Linked DNA regions of Homo sapiens. The protein of the gene in region 2 purifies or fractionates together with the protein of the main gene of each other region. This does not show direct contact. Each region holds a gene or a part of one and is shown on either strand. Other genes may lie near its edges.

Evidence for each region.
Region 1: the proteins of FSCN3 (region 2) and GLMN purify together in Homo sapiens (affinity purification with mass spectrometry; 2 studies listed by BioGRID and IntAct, with this or other methods). This does not show direct contact.

The regions. Positions count from the first base shown.
Region 1 is NC_000001.11:92,246,942-92,250,772, reverse strand, and holds part of GLMN (glomulin), read left to right. Parts: intron 1-2,783; coding exon 2,784-2,895; intron 2,896-3,628; coding exon 3,629-3,711; intron 3,712-3,831.
Region 2 is NC_000007.14:127,599,652-127,602,937, reverse strand, and holds the end of FSCN3 (fascin-3), read right to left. Parts: intron 2,745-3,286; coding exon 2,539-2,744; intron 1,316-2,538; 3' UTR 794-1,315; downstream 1-793. UniProt on the Homo sapiens protein: Acts as an actin bundling protein.

The DNA.
Region 1 (3,831 bases), on a different chromosome or scaffold from region 2:
GAAATTACCTCATGAACAGGCAAGCACACTGATTATGTAAAAATCTTTCTGATGTTTACTTTTGAATTGTTTATTCTCCATTTTTCTACATTAAAGTATTAAGATTAAATGTGTTATATGGAAAGGATTTGAGGGAAAACTTTTATTTCAACTATATAAATAAACGTGTGAGTTGTGATGTAAAACCTAGTTTTTACTGAGAGTCATGGCAAAAATAATTTGAAAAACAGTATCCTAGAAAAACTTTTACCCCGTGTGAATGGGAAAACATACAGCAATGTAAATGCTGCATTATTTTGAAATACTAAAAACTTAGGATAAATTCCATATAATGGAATGCTTATGCACCAATTAAAATTAGAGCTACAACACAAATAACTCTCAAAAACATAAGATTGACAAAGAAAAAGGAAGCTGAAGCAGGTTATATACAGTATACCATTTATGTGCTTTTAAACATGAAAAATTATATTGTTTAAGTGATACATTAGGAATGCAAAACATTCAAGTTTTAGATAATGGCTACCTCTTGAATAAAGGGGATTTCAGCCATATCTAGTATTTATTTTTTAAAAGTAAATATGATAAAATGTTTCCTTTTGTCAAAGGTTTCCTTTTGTCAAAGCTAGGTGTTTTCCCTATACTCTTTATGTTCAAATGTGCTTTAGTGGGTAACAGAGAGTCATCAGTAACCTAGTCTTGAAAGCCATCAGTTGCAGTGGGTTCTGCCTATAAACCCAGAGGTGAATGCAAAGTAAAAAGAAAAAAAAAAAGTTGGGGGGCAGGGAATAAATGGTGAAGAAAAGGCTGGACGTAAAAAGGAATAAAAGCCTGTTATTTGCAGCAACGTGGATGGACCTACATGTCATTACATTGAAATATGCCAGGCCCAGAAAGACAGTATCACATATTCTCACATGTGTGAGCTAACAAACTTGATCTCGTGGATACAGAATATAGAATGATTGATTGATACCAGAGTGTGAGCATGGGAGGAGGAAATGTAGAGCAACTGGTGAATGGGTACAAAAAGAGTTAGATAAAAGACAAGCTGTATTGCTTGATAGCACATTACAGTGACTATAATTAGCAACAATATATTGTATATTTCAATGTAGCTAGGAGAGAGGACAGGAAATGTTACCAACCCATAGAAATGATGAATACTCAAGAGGATGGATACCCCAAATACTCTGACATTATTATACATTTTATACGTGTAACAAATACATGTACCCATAAATATGTAAAATATCATGTATCAGTAAAAGAAAAAGGCTGGATAGAGAGAGGTAAAAATAGGAGAAATGAGAGCAGTCAGTGCACATAAGAGTAATATGCTTGTTATACTGTGTGGCTACACTGGTTAAGGAAATTCCTGCTGCATATAACCCAAATTTGCCATTAGAGGTTAAGAAAACTTTCCACTTAACAATTTAAAAATTATACAACTAAAACATCCATTATTTAAAAATCAACATAAAGAAGCAAAAAAAAAAAAAAAAGAATAGTAATCAAAATTACACCGTTGTTGATATACTGTATTCCCTTCTAGGTTTTGGGTTAATACGTCTGTACATTTTTTCTTTTTTAAAAAGAAAATGAGATCATACTAAAAGAATCACACTGTTTTATAACCTTTTTTCCCATTCACCAATATGTACTGAAAAACAGTATTTTAATGGCTGTATAGTTTTTCCATTATGTTAATATGTCATAATTTACTATGAATCTCCTGTTGAGTTATTTTAATTCTAATGTTTCACTAAACATTTTTAAAAAACATCTGCAGTAGAATCATAACATACATCTTTATTTCCCCAAGATAAGTTGATAGATGCTAAGTGAAAAGGTATGCATATTTTTGAGGGTTTTAGATCCTCTCTAGTATTCTACTTTTCCTATTAGTATAGGATAAATAAGACAAGATGACTGAAATGAAAAGGATAGGTGTGAGACATTAATATTATCAATTATTCAGCATAGACATGTGTAGATTTTATTTGGAATGCTGCAAGTAACATGTACTACTTGGGTCAAAATAAGCTCATTACAAAATAGGTTATCAAGTAGTTCATTATTCTAGTTAAGAATAAATTGGGTCCCTACGTTTCCCTTTTTGACCTAAGACATTTTCCTTTGTAAAGAGTACTTGGAAACTGGAAGTACCAATGGATTTTCTTTTCTCTATTTTTTAAAATAAAGACTTCATGAGTCCTCTCCATTAGTACTGTAAGAGAAAATGCTCTTGGAATAAACTCTAAGATACATGACAAAATAAGCTGCCCTCAACAGATAAAATCTTCACCTACTTTGGTCACCAGGGAGGTTCAAATTAGCCGGGTATTAGAAAAGTTTCCATCAGTAGGAAAGGGAAAGCATCCTCTAGAACTAGATCCGTGGTGTGGATATCAATTGAAAGGCCATACTTGGGATGAAGGCATAAATAAGGTAGAGTCATTGTGGAGATGGCTCATAGAGGAAGAGACGTCTGTGAATTTATCCTCAAATAATTTTCTCATAAATAAAACTTAACAAGTTAATAGATCTCAAAACCTGGAGCTATCCAAATGGTGCAGTGATAAGCGTAGTGCCCCAAGTACATTTTTCTTTTAATTGGTATTCACATAACTAGCTATAGTAATAATTATTAAATAGTGAAGTCCATTGTGAAAAGCAAGGGCCATGTTTCATTTATTTTTGTTTTTTGAGCTTTTATCGCGTTTAATAGTAGGCAATCAATCATTGTTGAACTAAATAACTCATTCTTTCATTCTTAACAGACTGGATTATGGACAGAACTTGGAAATATTGAGAATAATTTCTTAAAGCCACTTCATATAGGACTTAATATGTCAAAAGCACATTATGAAGCAGAAATTAAAAATAGCCAAGGTTGGTAATGTGCAATTTTGTTTTCAATTAGGTCTAAAAAGTAGTCTAATTTTGGAACTGTCATATTCAAATTTAAGAACTTTTTAAAAATCTTGTACTTTAGAGACCATAACAGCTAAGCCATTTTATTTATAGTTAAAATTCTTAGCAGATCTATAAGCTAATTTACCTAAAATCGGGTTAATGAAGACTTAAACCAAATATTACATTGTAAAGCCTCAAGGTCTGATTAAGAATCTGTATTACAGCTATTTCCGTTTGGGTACCATTCCTTTGGTATTGCTGGGTCCACTCTCCATCTCACTCTCAAGTAAATCCATACAAATTATGAAAAGAATCTTAGATCCAGAATTTTTTTAAGTCAATAATTCTATAATAATCGTGTGATCTCTTCCGTATATCTGTGGTGGTGCTTTTATAGGCATTACCGGAAATTTTGTTTTTAGTATAATGGCTATAATTCTGATTATATACTGAAGAAAACAGTTTCATGAATCCTATACATGCCAAAATAATGCTATTTATCTAAAGAAGCATTAATTTACATGTTGCAGAATTTTGATATTTCATTCTGTTTGCTTATAGCTTAAGTATACCCTGAGCTGTTAAACAATGGACTTAATAATTTATACAAATAACTGACATGTTTTAAGTTAGTGAATGAAAGTAGCTTATACCTTTGTTATTGAAATCTGAGAGTTAAGTGTCACACATGATTTTTCTTCTCTTACAGAGGCCCAGAAATCTAAAGATCTTTGTTCTATAACTGTAAGTGGAGAAGAGATCCCTAATATGCCTCCTGAAATGCAGCTTAAGGTGATCTGAAATTTTCTTTTCTTTCCTTTTTCTTCTTTAGAAACGGGGTCTTGCTATCTTGCCCAAGCTGGAGTGCAGTGGCATGATTGTGGCTCACTGCAGCTTCAACTCCCTGGGCTC
Region 2 (3,286 bases):
ATTTTTATATGTCTGGGGAAACCAAAAAATTTGTGTGACTTATTTTATTGCCATATTTGCTTTATCACAGTGGTCTGGAACTGAACCCACAATATCTCTGAGGTATACCTGTATTTATTTTTATAGTCATTTTCCACTTATGGTAAGTGATACTGGTTTTCCATTTTATGATAGTGAAAAAATATTCCTTTCTAAATAAATGTATTTAAGAGTCTATGTCAATAAAAACATTAATAGGGCAGATGGTAGGTAGATAAAGGCCAAAATCACAAAAACAGTGTAAGAATGACAGACATTTTGGAAATCCTGCTTTGACTGAAAGAATGGTGGACATTAGAGTTGGATTTGAGTCAGAAGCCTAGCTGTGTTGTGATTAGTCATGAGATCTTGGGCAAATCACTTTTGCTGTCTGTGAAAGGTAAGAAGTCTGCCGGTCACGGTGGCTCACACCTGTAATCCCAGCACTTTGGGAGGCCGAGGCGGGTGGATCACCTGAGTTCAGGAGTTCGAGACCAGGCTGGCCAACATGATGAAACCCCGTCTCTACTAAAAATACAAAAAAAAAAAAAGTAGCTGGGGTGGTGGCGGGCGCCTGTAATCCCAGCTACTTGGGAGACTGAGGCAGGAGAATTGCTTGAACCCGGGAGGCGGAGGTTGCAGTGGGCCAAGATCACACCACTGCCACTGCACTTCAGCCTGGGTGACTGAGCAAGACTCTGTCAAAAAAAAAAAAAAAAAAAAAGGTAAGAAGTGGTGGAGGAAGTACCCACTTCACTGGAAAAAAGGTAATGATGGGTGGGGAAGTTAAATAAATCGTGGTAGGAGGAGGTAAAGTGGCCTATACAGGCATAAGGTGTTATTACCATTATCCTGTGCTCACGAGATTAACAATCTTTCCTTTTTTCTAAACCAAAAAGATATTTAAAGTCATAACTGGATTCTAAACCCTTCAGGGCAATGCTGGCTGCTCATGGGTTCACTGGAAAAAGTCTAGCAGTTCTGGATGGGGACGGGGAAGATCAGTGGAAGAACTGCTTGCCATTTGGTCTCTCCTGTATAGAACTTAGAGCAGCCTGGGGTGTCTGTTTCAACCCTCATCCAGACCCCTATTCTATATTGAGTCAGATGCACACAAGGATCTTGGGGGTGGCCTGTTGTGATGTATTGTTGCATAAAACAGGTGTTTTGCTAAACTGGGTAGGAAAAGTTGTAACAGATGTTCTTCTCTTGGATCTTGACTCTGAGGTTCCTGGTCCATTTAGTGTAGTAGTTTTTCCTGGAGGATTTGGATTTTGGTAGGTGACATCCCATTGACCTGGAGAGGAAAGAGGAAATATAAATGGTCAGCAATCAAGTCAGTCATTTGCTGATCTCTGGCTTTTAGAATACTGGGTCAGATCCTGTGGGAGAAAAAGAATATAGTGATTTATCCTATTCTTGATGAGGGATCCACCCTAGACACATGTGAAGTTAACTTAAAGGAAGAAGCTTAATAGCTCTTGATTCCAGGTCTGTGTGATGTAAAAAACAAAGCACTTTGCACAATAAGTCAGGAAAGTGAGGTCCATTAGGAAGGGACAGGACAAAGAGCAACAAGGTGCCCTGAAGAGTGTGAACAGGGAATGATGGAAGGGAAGCGCCACGTTATAAAAGCAAACTGTGGAGATGAGATTGGATGTCGGAGATGAGATTGGATGGACAGATCTGGCAGCAGGAAATGCTTTCGGGGAGCCCTAGAAGCAGTGCTTCTGGAGAAAAGCCTGGAGCCAAGTGGTGGCAATGGTAATTAAGAAGGAGCAAGCACACAAGAGGCATTGTTAAAGAAGTAGCCAAGTATTTGCAGGGTTTGATGAAGGAAGTGAAAGAAAGGGTGGAGAGATCATGCTGAGCTCTTGAGCCTGAGCATTTGGGAGGAGGGAATGCCCAAGATGGCCCTGGGGAAGGCAGGAAAACAGGATCACCTTAGGAAGGGAAGATGAGCAGGCTGATATCAGCTATGTTGATTTTTAGGAACTGGCAGGACGAAGTCAAGTCAACTGTCTATCAGGAGGTTGGAGAGACATGACATTAGAGGTCAGGAGAAGGGTTGGGGCTGAGGAAAATATTCAAGAGACCCAGGGGTCCAAGAGGTAGGGATAGAAGGTGCAAAGGATAGAAAGCACATCTTTTTTTTCACCTACACACATGATCAAAGTCATCCGTTTTCCCTAAAAATAGAGTGAAATTCTGCATCTTAATGGAGATAGAAATGTACAAGAACACCTCACCCTGTCCCCTCCAAGCGTGCTTCCAAGCCCACCTGTCAGTGTGGCATAGCAGTGGGAAACTGTCTCCCCTTTCTAGCAAGCCCAGGTTTGTAAGCTCTAAAGAAATGGCACAGATTAGGAATAAATGTCTGGAGTTGATCAAATTATGGGACAGAAGTCAGCCTGGGAGTGCATTTTGGTCTTCCCATCACATGCCTCCCCACCCACCTCCCTTCTCCTCTTGCCCCATGGCTTCTGCTCCCCTAGCCCCTTACCTGTTCCTCTCCCTTACCTAAAATTCCCAGATACACTCTCTGGTAATGTCTTCACTGTCTGCCAACAGGGTGCCACTTTGGTCGGCTCGCATGTAGAAGCCATTGGGGGCCAGTACAGTGAGTAAGTTGCTCCCCTGAAGCTCGATACAGAAGTTGAGGGCAAACTTGCCCCAAGGGCGAAAGGTGCCAAAGGATGTTATTGACCAGAAGGATCCCCCCTGTGCTGGAGAAGGAAGAGCTCAGGTTGGTGGGCCATTCACAGGGGAGTCCTCCAGCGATCTGGCCTTGGAGGGACTCTGTGGAGGCATGCCACCCTCCCCTAGCTGCCCCATCCTGCCTGCATTGGCGGGTCCTTCTATGGAAATGCAGGAGCGCCAATAGGGATTCCACTGTTTTCTGTTCTGCCAACCCACCCTGGGGCTTTGAAGTGTGAAAACAACAGAGGTCCTGTTTTTCCTTTTTTTTTTTTTTGGAAACGGAGTCTCGGTGTGTCGCCCAGGCTGGAGTGCTGTGGCGTGATCTTGGCTCACTGCAAGCTCCGCCTCCTGGGTTCACGCCATTCTCCTGCCTCAGCCTCCCAAGTAGCTGAGACTACAGGCACCCGCCACCACGCCCGGCTAATTTTTTGTATTTTTAGTAGAGACGGGGTTTCACCGTGTTAGCCAGGATGGTCTCCATCTCCTGACCTCGTGATCTGCCCGCCTCAGCCTCCCAAAGTGCTGGGATTACAGGCATGAGCCACTGCGCCTGGCCTGTTTTTCCTTT